Linked DNA regions of Homo sapiens. The protein of the gene in region 1 purifies or fractionates together with the protein of each later gene. This does not show direct contact. Each region holds a gene or a part of one and is shown on either strand. Other genes may lie near its edges. The genes, in order: LMBRD2, SLC22A17 and NTRK2.

Region 1 (3,651 bases):
ATTCTACCATTCATTCTAATTCCATGAAAACAGCATGCCATGTACTTTATGACACAGGAGAAAATTTCTCCTCTAATCTTAATGTACAGCTTGATTACAATCGGTCCTCACCTGACCCTTTGTGCTGGCCATGGTCTGAAGCATTTAGACACCCAGCAATAATTATTGGAAAGCTCTAAGGCTAATTTATGTCATTAGAAAAAAGCTGGACATAAGGGTGTTTTGCAGGCTACGATAGCTGTCAGTGTCAAAGGCCAGGACTTAGAGTTAACATTCTGTAATTAATCCTATCATTTTTTAGCCTAAATAGAATAATGTTAAAATAGTATTATTTATTATAATAGAATAATAACTCTACCTCTTTTTTCTTTAAATTTTTTAGAGGGAGACTCGCACCTGATCACTCAAGTAGTCCCTTCAAACTATCCCCAGCTTCTCCAAAGCTACAATGAAACAAACTGAAACTCAATCAGTAAATATTTAAAAGAGCTTTAAAGAGAAAGGATATCCAGATTTAAGAGCAAAAGAAAAAACAATGTTAAGTTTCTTACCTAAAATAAGTAGCAATGCAGAGAATTACCACCAACATAGGATAATATATATAGAATCCATCTGCAATAAAGGATAAAACTTTCATGGAACCCATAATCTGAAGAGCAAGAAAAAAGTAAGTTAAATTGGAATAGCTCTATAATTTCCATTCCTTTCCATCATTAGAAAATTTGCCTATAACCAGTTATATCAATCCATTTGAACTTTTTAAAAAGTAGAAAAAAAGCAGTAAATGGACTTATTTTTTAAAATCTGCTTTTTATTGAGGTTTTCTCTTAAAGAAAATTAATATAATTATTACTCAAAATTATCACATACATTGACTACAAATATAAAGTTAATATTAGTATAGGTCAGTTCTTTTGATACTGGTCAGCTAGACAACATATATGAACCAAAAAAAACATTTTTATCATAAAAGAAGGAAAATCACTTTTATCTAGTCAATAGTAATACGTATACAATCTTTAAGAGAAAATTTTACCAATAACACTATAGAACTTTTCTGCTGGCATTAAAAGAAATTTCACAATAACAGCACCTCATATAGATAGTGAACCTAAGGAATTCTATTTTCTGACCGTACTTACAGATGTATAAGCAGTTGGTTGAGTATTCTTGTGAGAGATAGATGAATCCATATGGGTCAAACCCAAGAAATTAAGACATAAAGGAGGTGTCAAACGGCAAAATAGCCTGCAACAAACATTTAAAAATATGTATATAAAAAGTAAAGCAGCAAAATACATTTTATAGTATACTGAGATGTATTAAAAACATTTCAGATAATTATAGCTAAAATTTTCATCTATTTGCTTTATATATATATTGAATTCTTAATGTGACCTGCCCTCACTTACTTGGGAGATATTCTGAAAATTGCCACATCAATGCCTACGTGACTACAGCCTCAAGCTCCTTGCTTTTATGGTTTCTGCCATTGCTTTATCCCCACAAGTTGTGGAGTGCCTTTGTATCATCTCCTACAACTAAGCCATCCGTAAAATCCATCTCACAGCATGACAAGGACAGTAACATCCTCAAGGTGAATTGTATTCAGTACATAAAAGAACTGAAGTTGTATCAACATATGTCATTCTGACAAGCACAGATATAAAGTTGTTCAATTCTGTCCAAATAAAAAGAATGCCTTACAAACCCACACACTTGGATAATTGGGGCTGGGGAGAATAAAGTGTGGGTATGAATTAAAAAAAAATAATATGAGATAATTCTTTTGTGGTGATAGAACTGTTCTGAATCCTGATTGTGTTGGTGGCTACAGGAATCTACACACACACACACACACACGAATGAAGGATAAAAAATGGTGAGAACTAAATAAAGTCTGTAGTTTGTAGTTAATAGTAATGTTTTACTCTCATTTCCTGGTTTTGATATCACTGGGGGTAGCGTGAAGGTTACATAGGACTTTTTGTGCTACATTTGCAACTTCCCATGAGTCCATAATTATTTGGAAAACAACAAAAAAGATGCTTAAAAATACTTTGGATGTCAACTCCTCTATAAAATTATCTAAGTTCATCCTTTATAAATACCTAATAGGACTCATTTAACAATAAGAACAGGTAATAGATTGTACAATCTTGCCCAACTTGAAGACATCTCTCTAAATCCTCTCTGAATTCCTCAGGAAAAATTGTTCTTGTTGGTTTTCTCAGTCCTCCTCAACTCAGTGAGAGACCGCTGAATCTTAGAACACCATCTAGGTCTGACTTAGTCTCTAAACTGTCCATTGTTTCTACTGCTTGCTAATCTCTGGTTGGTAAATCCGGGCTCACTAAGTATGCTTCTTCTGCCTTCTAGCCTAACCTAGCACACCTATTTTAACCTTAAACCTCAAGCAGGAAGTAGCTGGCAATCAACAAACATCAATTTAATATTTGAAACTAATCAATTAGCTGATAGAAATATAGATGTTAGTGGAACACCTGTAAACAACAAAAAATAAAAGATCCATAAGAATACACTCAATGATGACATTTCTCTTGTTTCTAAACATAATCCTACTTACATGCCACTGAAAAGAAGGCTATAAGCATCAGTCTGGTGATGTGAGGCCAAATAATAATAGTTAAATACACGAATCCTGAACACAGTAGAATAAACACAGATACTTAGGAAGAAGATGGAAAGGAAGCAGGCAATCTGGAAAAAAACAAAAACAAAGCAGTTTGTTTAAAACAAACAGACTTTAGCACTTAACAATTACAGGCATTATCCTTCATTTCTTTTTCTTTTGTTTTTTTGAGATGGAGTCTCGCCCTGTCACCCAGGCTGGAGTGCAGTGGCGCGATCTTGGCTCACTGCAACCTCCACCTCCTGGGTTCAAGTGATTCTCCTGCCTCAGCCAACTGAGTAGCTGGGATTACAGGCATGTGCCACCACGCCCGGCTAATTTTTGTATTTTTAGTAAGATGGGGTTTCACCATGTTTGCCAGGCTGGTCTCAAACTCCTGATCTCATGATCCATTCGCCTTCGCCTCCCAAAGAGCTGGGATTACAGGTGTGAGCCACCACGCCCAGCCTGGCCTTCATTTCTAGCTAACATTTATTGATGCTCTAAAATTGAAATACAGTAATAGAGAATTTTTTAATCACCCACTAAGATTATGAAAAAAACCCAACACTTCAAACTGTTTAACATCCTAGATCCAAAAGTTTCGAATCTACCTTCTAATGTGAGCCTGTTTTCCCATTCCCTTGGCAACTCTTCACATGAGGCCTATAAGTTATGTAGCTTTACTGGCATAAATATAATCAAAGTATTCCCAGGGCCAAGTGTGATGGATCCTCCTGAAGCAGGACGATCACTTGAGTGCAAGAGTTCCAGACCAGCCTGGGCAACATGGCAAAATCCTGACTCTACAAAAAATACAAAAATTAGCAGGGGATGGTGGTGCATGGCTGTAGGCCCAGCTACTTGGGAGGCTAAGGTGAAGGTGAGAGGATTTCTTGAGCCCGGGAAGTTGAGGCTGCAGTGAGCCATGTTCATGCCACCACACTCCAGCCTGGGTGACAGAGCAAGATTCTGCCTCCAAAAAAAACAGAAAGAAAAAAAAAATCTCAGATTTCTGC
Region 2 (4,112 bases), on another chromosome or scaffold:
ATGAGGCCATTGTTCCATGGAGGTGGGACATTGGTCTATTAATACATTAAGAATGGTCAGGCTGGGCGCAGTGGCTCACACCTGTAATCCCAGCACTTTGGGAGGCCGAGGCTGGCAGATCACGAGGTCAGGAGTTCAAGACCAGCCTGACAAATATGGTGAAACCCCATCCTTACTAAAAATACAAAAATTAGCCAGGTGTGGTGGCAGGTGCCTGTAGTCTCAGCTACTCGGGAGGCTGAGGCAGGAGAATCGCTTGAACCTGGGAGGCAGAGGTTGCAGTGAGCTGAGATTATGCCACTGCACTCCAGCCTGGGCAACAGAGCGAGACTCCATCTCAAAAAGAAAGAAAAAAGAAAAAAAAGAAAGAAAAAAGAAAGATCAGTGGGGACATAGACATGGGTGTATTAATCCATAAGGTAGGACTATTGATCAGTGGGATGAATCTATTAATCCATGGGAATAATCAGTAAGGATAAGGTCACAGACCAGGGGAGATGAGACTATTGGTAAGTGATTATGGTCACTAACTATGAGTTAGTGAAGACATGGTTACTGATTCTTGGAGGCTGGGCTATTGATCTTTGGGGATAAGACCATTGATCTATGGAGATGAAGATAGGGAGCCTCTGGTCATTGCAAAAGGGGCACCAATCCCTGGGAGTTAGGCTATTGATCTAATGGGGTGGGGCATTTTTCCATGAGGATGGGCTTATTGGTTAATGTGCTGAAGGCTACAGATTTTAGAAGACCAAATTATTGATCTTTGGGGATGAAACCATGGTTCCATAGGAATGAGGCTACTGGTCTGTGGCAATGAGGCCACTGATGCATAGGGATGGGCTATTGACCTGTGGGTTTCGGATCATTGGCCCACAGAGGTGTGTGACTATTGGGCAGTGAGGATGGGTATTGATTTTAAGGAACTGGACTATTGAATGTTGGGATGGCTTTGATCCACAGAAGTTGAGTTATTAATCCACTTGGATGGAACTGTGGATCAATGGGGCTGAGTCTAATCGGAAGTTTAGTGCAGTGAGAGCATCTGGTCAGTGGTGAAGGTGACCAGAATCAGAGATGAGATTTTTGATCTGTGGGAAGAGTTATTGGTTGCTGGGATTGGGTTGTTGATCTCTAGAGGTGAAGCTACCGACTCATGGAAACGGGGATTTCGGTGAGAGGATCTCAAAGCCCTGAGGATCCATGAGGGTATGACTGCTAATCTATGGGCTATTCCCCTACAGAGCGTTGGGTCATTTGGTGGCAGGCATGGGACTGTGGGTTACTGGGTCTGAGGATATTGTCTTTGGAGATAGTTAGTTGACTTGTAGGGGAGGGGTCGCTGGTCAGAAATGGGGTAATTTGTTTGTGAAGTTGAACTATTGATCAGTGGGAATGGAGCTGTTGGTGTTTAGGAATTAACATATTGATCTTCAGGAATGAGGTCACTGAGATGGAGCGAACAGTCCATGTGGGCTGTTAGTGGGGATGAGACTATTCTCTTTGGAGATGAGGCCATTGATTCACGGATAGGGGGCCACTAATTAGTGGGAATGGGACTAATAGTCCATAGAGGTCGAGTCATTCCCTTGCGCGGAAGAGGTAGGGAAGGGGTATTTCTTGATGGAGAGTGAAGTTGAGACATGGATAGACCATTGAATAGAAGTCCAGAGAAGACTGCAGAGTCCAGCGAATCGTCTTCGACCTCCTGTAAACGCCCGCTGCTTGGGTTAGCTTCCCTAGCACCCCCTCCTTTCTACCAGCCCTGCCCCCACGACAGCCCTCACCTGTCTGCGGGGTAACCCAGGAACAGGTAGCCGGAGGCAAAGCCCAAGATGAAGAGGATCTGCTCCAGGATCACCTGCCAGCCCAGGTCACACACCAGATCCCACTGGGGATGTGAGAAGGGTGCAGCGGGCGTGAGGCCCCGCCCTCGCCGCTCTCTGCCCGCCCCCAGACCCGCGGCCCGCCTGGCCGCCTCACCTGGCCGATGGCGTTGGTGGTGAGCACAGGAAGGCCATTATAGTCCCAATCCTTGAGGCAATGGTTGAAGTCCGGCGGGGCGAAGCCGCTGCACGAGGGGTCGGTACTGGTGGCGACACGGCTGGCGGCGCTGGCTGCTAGGGCAGCGCTGGCGACGCTGACGCCGCTGGCATTGGGAGGCTGCTCCCAGCCAGAGGCATTAGGGGGGAAGGCCCCGTAGTGGCAATGCAGCGGGGGCGCCAGCGTGAAGATGGGGTCCGAGGCCATGCCCAGAGCCACGAAGAGCACCGGCAGGCAGCAGAGGCCGAGCTGCAGCTGCTGGCCGCCGCCCAGCGCCCCCACCTGGGCGAGCAGCGCCTCAAAGCTGAGGGGGCCTGGGGGCACGGCCAGCGACAGGCTGCTGCCCAGTCCGTCGCCGCCCGCGTCTCCCTCCCCCTCCCGCTCGCGCTCCCGCTCACCCTGCAGCTGCTCCGTGGGCACCGCATCTCCGAGGGTCCCGACCTGCTGTTGGGGGGCAGGGGGTGGCAGGAGAAGGGTGAAGCGGAGGAAACCGCAGAGCAAGGGCAGGGGGCAGGTGGGAGGGAGGGCTAGGAAGGCAGTCAGGGGCGAGGGATGCGCAGGAGGAAAATGCCAGACGCTCCGCGGGGGCGGGGGTGCTGGGAGAGGATGGCGTCGCCACCTGGGGCTCGGGCACTTACTCCGTTGGAGGTGGGGGTGATCTCTACAGTGTTGTCGATTTTGCCGCCGCCCCCGCCATTGGGCTCGGGGGTCCCGGTGGCCACCCGGGGAGCCAGCTTGCCGACCGCAGGGGCCCTGCCGGCCCGCGCCGAAAGGATGCGCTGTCCTCTGGCTCAGTTGCGCGCCGGCTGCCCGGACACAGACAGCTCGAAGAGATCCCGCTCTGCAGCTCTGCAGCCGCGGGCGCCTCCTTGGTCTCTGCGATCTCTGCGCTGCTTTCCCCTCCCCTTCCTCTAGACTCTCCTCCCCTTCCCACGTCAGCAGAACCTTCGGTCCAGACTCTTCGTCAGAGAGAGGAAGGGGGGCCAGGGCCCAGGGGAGGGAGGGAAGGGGGGCTCTGTCGTCTCTTTCCTGGGTCTGCGGGCCATTGCGGTAAAAAAGAAAAAAAGCTGAAGGATAGTAGCTAGTCCAGGCAGATGCCAGAGATTCTTCCTCTGCTTCCAATCATTTGCCATCATTCATTCATTCATTCATTCACCCATTCACTAATCAGTAAAATTTAAGTGTCCACTACGTTCCAGGACTTGCACTAGACTTTAAGGATAACAGGGTGGACAAGTTCCACTTTGGAGACCTTTACTCCAGGGAGACAGACATGTAAACTGGCTATTACAGTACAACTTATGCATATGGAAGACTGTCTTGGCCCTGTATCAGCCCTAGCTTCAGTCCTCTACAAGGAGACCACTTTCTTGGGTTTCATCACTCCCATCCTGTTTGAATCTCCATTTCTCAACAGCATTTGGCACTGTTGACCCCTCTTCCTCTAAACACTCTCTTCCTTTGCTGCTGAGTCTCTCTTGCTCCCCTTTTCTCCATTGCAGAAATCGTCTTCCAGCTCATGGCATTGGTGCTGAGCATGGGCAGGCCATTATCCTCCCGGTTCTTGAGGCAATGATTGAAGTCCAGCGGGGTGACGCAACTGCAGGAGGGGTCTGTATTGGTAGTGATGAGGCTGTGGTGCTGGCTTCTAGGGCCATTCCCGTCTGTATCATTTAGACACCATGGTTCAGTGTCTGGAATCCTCACAGACTTAGTCCTAGGCCCTCCTCTCATCTCACACTGTCTCCACTTTGGGATCTTACCTATGCCCACAGCTTCAATCACCACCCATACAAACAATACAAACCTGACGCCCAGACTGACATCTCCAGCTTCCACCTCTGTTCTGAGCTCCAGACCTATGAAGCCACCTCTTATTTGACCTTCACCTTGGATGACTCACAGGGACCTCAAACTCAATATGTTCAAGACGAAATTTTTGCTTTTCCCCCATAACTTGGTTGGCTTCCACTGCTTTTTTCTGCAGCGAATGGCACCCTCAACATCGCATTGTGGCCAAATGCTCAGGCAACAGCCTTTAGAGCTTTCTCTTCCTTATCCATGTTGAA
Region 3 (3,651 bases), on another chromosome or scaffold:
TAGCCACCAAAAGAACTGAAGCAGGCTCTTGTTTGCCCCTGGAGTGAAGGCAATGGTGAATTCTTGAACAGAAAAGGAAACACTAGTGCTCATGGCTGACTGATTCAGAACCACAGAGTCTTTCAAGGAGTAGCATGCATGAGTGTCACAGCCTCCAGGTTCAAGATGAAATCAGTCAGGCTGGTGAGGTCAAGTGGCTCAACCAAAATCCCAGACCCTGATACTGTCAGAGAGTGGGTATCCAAAATCCTAGATCCCTAACCAGCGCTCCTTTCAGTTATACCACGTTCCTATACTTTGTCGCCTTTCCCACTGTGTTAACCTTACCAAGCCAGGTTCAGTTGAAACAATGATGGTCTGCCCACAGGTCGTCCACCAGAAAAAAGTACACAAGTCAAGATTTCTTTACAATCCATTAAAGGGGGTTTACAGCCAAATGATTGTTTGTATATATATGTCTGTGATTTGGGAACAGAGGAGAAGGGGATAAGAAACACCACCAGAAACAGAAAGAGGCTGAAGAGTTGCAAAGAGAAAGGCCAAACCCATGTACCTTAGTCCATGTGGGCTGCTAAAATAAAATATCTTAGACTGGGTAATTTATAACAACAGAAATGTATTGCTCACAGTTTTAGAGGCTGAGAAGTCTAAGATCAAGGTTCTGGGAGGTTTCATATCTGGTGAGGGCCCATTCCTCATAAATGGCACCTTCTATGTGTGTCCTCACATGGCAGGAAGGACAAACAAGCTCTCTGGAGTCTCTTTTATAAGGGCACCAATCCCATTTTGCCTTTATGTCCTAATCAACTCCCACCTCTCAACACCACTACCCTGGTGACTGAGTTTCAACACATGAATTTTGGCAGAATACAAACATTCAAGCCATAGCACCAGACGCACACAAGAAATAACCAAGGAGCAATATCATCTATAACATTCTTTGAGTTTGGGTGGTAGCAGCAGGGTTTTGAAGTAAAATTGGGAGTAAACTAAAAAGAGTGTTCTGGTTTGGGGTTTTGTTTTGTTCTTTGGAGAAAGACACTTGTTTTGTTTTGTTTTGTTTCACCATAGTTGTGTGTTTTTTTGTCACACCTTACCAGGGAATCTAGGGGCTATGATGTCAAGCTCTCTTGCCCAGCACCCTCCACCCCTACACATGCATCACACAGAGGAATAAGCCAAGCCCAGAAAAGAGAGGTCACTTGCCACACAGTGAGCAAGAGTCAGACAATTCAGGCATAGGCCCCTCTGCCACCTCACAGCAAGGGACTCTGGGGTACATGAAGTAGAAACAACTCTTGTTACAAAGATTAGCGTTGAGAAGATCCTTTCTTTTTAAATTGCACTATATTGCAGAGGTTGAAACCAAAATTCCGATACCTTTCAATTTTGTTTACATTGTTCGTTTATGTTGAGAAGATATCAAAGAATCAGAAGATAGACACAGTGGGTCTCTGAGTGACCAGGTCGGCTAACAGGGTCAATGCACTAATGCTCAAGTACTTCTCTCAAAGAAGACAGCCCAACCAGATCCTGGCCAAGGGACATCCAGAATGATAAAAACAAAATTAAAATAGTGGTTTAGGGAAGCACATTCTCAATTATTCAGAAAATTTTACAACTCAAGATAATTAAGTTGAACAAATTACACATGGCAGAGTTTTATACACAGATTTATGTATTGATGAAAACACGGTACACACATACAACATTATGGTGTGTGTCTATGTGTGTGTGTGTAGACAATTCTTGGGATATGAAGATTACAGGAAAGGATGGGATGCTAAGTAGCAATTTGTCCTTATTTGACATAAAAAAAGGAACTCTAAATGGTGTGTGATTATTAACAGTTTTATTTTGTACAAGAAGATGCCATATTACCAAAGGCAACCAAATCATTTATCTCTTCACAATATATATCAGACTGCTCAGGAGCTGAACAGGAGAAGAGGATAGGGGTGGGGAAGACAGAGGATGAAGCACCAGCCCACCTCCTTCCCACTGCATGAAGTTTAATCTGTGAACATGAATTCAAATCTCTAGACCTCTCCTAGAATTGCCTTGGCTCTCGAGGTCAAATTTGGGCACCAAGGTTGGAGTAGACAGAGCCCTAAATGAGACATTAGATAGGATCCTACCCCTAAATTATGCTCTGCTTTACCAAGGGGCCCAGGCAAACTAATAAACCTCACAGCCCCTCAGAGGCTGCCAAAACCTCCCCACCTTCTTCAGAGTGAGGCTGTAAACCTAAATAAGCAGATGTCTGTAAAGGGCCCTTCACGTCCCATGGGAGCAAATCTTCATGCAACCAAAAATATGTCTCAGAAGGGTGCTTTTCCTGGAAAGGTCTCAGAGCAGAACACGAACAACACATAAAATGGTAGCTGGATGAATTTTGGATGGGAGCCAATAATCCTGAAGTTTGCTCACTGGCTCAGCCACTGAGACTAGTCATCAATCTTGAGGCATTGAGAAGTCAGGGGGAAGAAAGAAGTCGGGGAATAATAAGTACTCTCTGGCCACAGGTCTTTCAGGGCAGCTAACACAGACCTCATCGAAAGGGCTGCGGGTTTCTCCACTTACATAAGCACCCCCGACTGTGGCAAAGACTCCAGGGGCAACAGGTTTCATTTCACTCTGTCTGCTCTGCCCCTCTTCTAATGCCAATCTGCAAAGATGGCCCAGCAGGCCCAAGGTTAGCATACCTCATTGCTGCCAACTCATGAAGGCTTTTCTCTGAAGCTCAAATTTTTTGTGTATGAATTGCCTAAAGAAGAGGAACACTTCAAATTTAACACACACACACACACACACACTCACACACAGTAAGCTAAACAGAAAATATATTTCTTCCTATATGAAGATAAGATGATTGCTTTCAGATCAGTAGCTCATGCACTTTTCAATTACTTGGTCTCTCACAGAGATGAGTTTGCACAGACTTAGCCATGTTAAACTTGTCTCCCCATTTATGGTGGTTCTATTAGGTTGGTGCAAAAGTAATGGCAAAAACCACAGTTACTTTCGCACCAACCTAATAAAATGATGAGCCAGAATTAGGCGGTCTGTTTGAGAACACAGAACGGAGGGGAGGCACCCTAAAGCAAAGGCCCCCAGCATTCATTTGGATGCTAGGAGAAGGAGCTTCTAGTTCCCACAATGCTGTTAATGAGTCGGCCTTCGGCAACTTTCTTCACTGCCCTTGATTTTTGCAAAGAAGAGGCTGAAGCAGATCATTTCTAAAGCCCTTTCTCTTTCTGAGGTTCCGATTCTAAGTGACCCATCTGAACACTGACCCTGTGACCTTGGACTCATCAGACCAGTACTAACATGCCACTAGCCTTGTTAGCAGCTCACATTTAAAAAGACATGGTTTGAGGGAGTTCAGAGCAGACACTGAAAACATTTCCACATAACACTCTGACACCAAAGGTCTTCAGATTCACACACTGCCAGACCCCGAGCACCTTGTATCATGCCCTTCCTTCACAGCTGATGTATACACTTCCTTATCTCCGTGACCGAGGCTTCAGGGAACTTCAGAGCCTTGAGAAACTTGTCTGAGCATCAAATCCAAAGCCCTCAGTTTACATGTGACAAGCTGAGGCCCAGAAACATTAAAAGGCTGCTTCAAGATCAGGTAACTGGGTA

What was found.
Region 2: the proteins of LMBRD2 (region 1) and SLC22A17 fractionate together in Homo sapiens (co-fractionation; one large-scale study listed by BioGRID). This does not show direct contact.
Region 3: the proteins of LMBRD2 (region 1) and NTRK2 fractionate together in Homo sapiens (co-fractionation; one large-scale study listed by BioGRID). This does not show direct contact.

The regions. Positions count from the first base shown.
Region 1 is NC_000005.10:36,113,873-36,117,523, forward strand, and holds part of LMBRD2 (G-protein coupled receptor-associated protein LMBRD2), read right to left. Parts: intron 2,722-3,651; coding exon 2,588-2,721; intron 1,249-2,587; coding exon 1,143-1,248; intron 650-1,142; coding exon 552-649; intron 1-551. UniProt on the Homo sapiens protein: Recruited to ligand-activated beta-2 adrenergic receptor/ADRB2, it negatively regulates the adrenergic receptor signaling pathway. May also regulate other G-protein coupled receptors including type-1 angiotensin II receptor/AGTR1.
Region 2 is NC_000014.9:23,349,965-23,354,076, forward strand, and holds the start of SLC22A17 (solute carrier family 22 member 17), read right to left. Parts: upstream 2,924-4,112; 5' UTR 2,778-2,923; coding exon 2,682-2,777; intron 2,488-2,681; coding exon 1,984-2,487; intron 1,892-1,983; coding exon 1,788-1,891; intron 1-1,787. UniProt on the Homo sapiens protein: Cell surface receptor for LCN2 (24p3) that plays a key role in iron homeostasis and transport.
Region 3 is NC_000009.12:84,676,126-84,679,776, reverse strand, and holds part of NTRK2 (BDNF/NT-3 growth factors receptor isoform a precursor), read right to left. Parts: intron 1-3,651. UniProt on the Homo sapiens protein: Receptor tyrosine kinase involved in the development and the maturation of the central and the peripheral nervous systems through regulation of neuron survival, proliferation, migration, differentiation, and synapse formation and plasticity.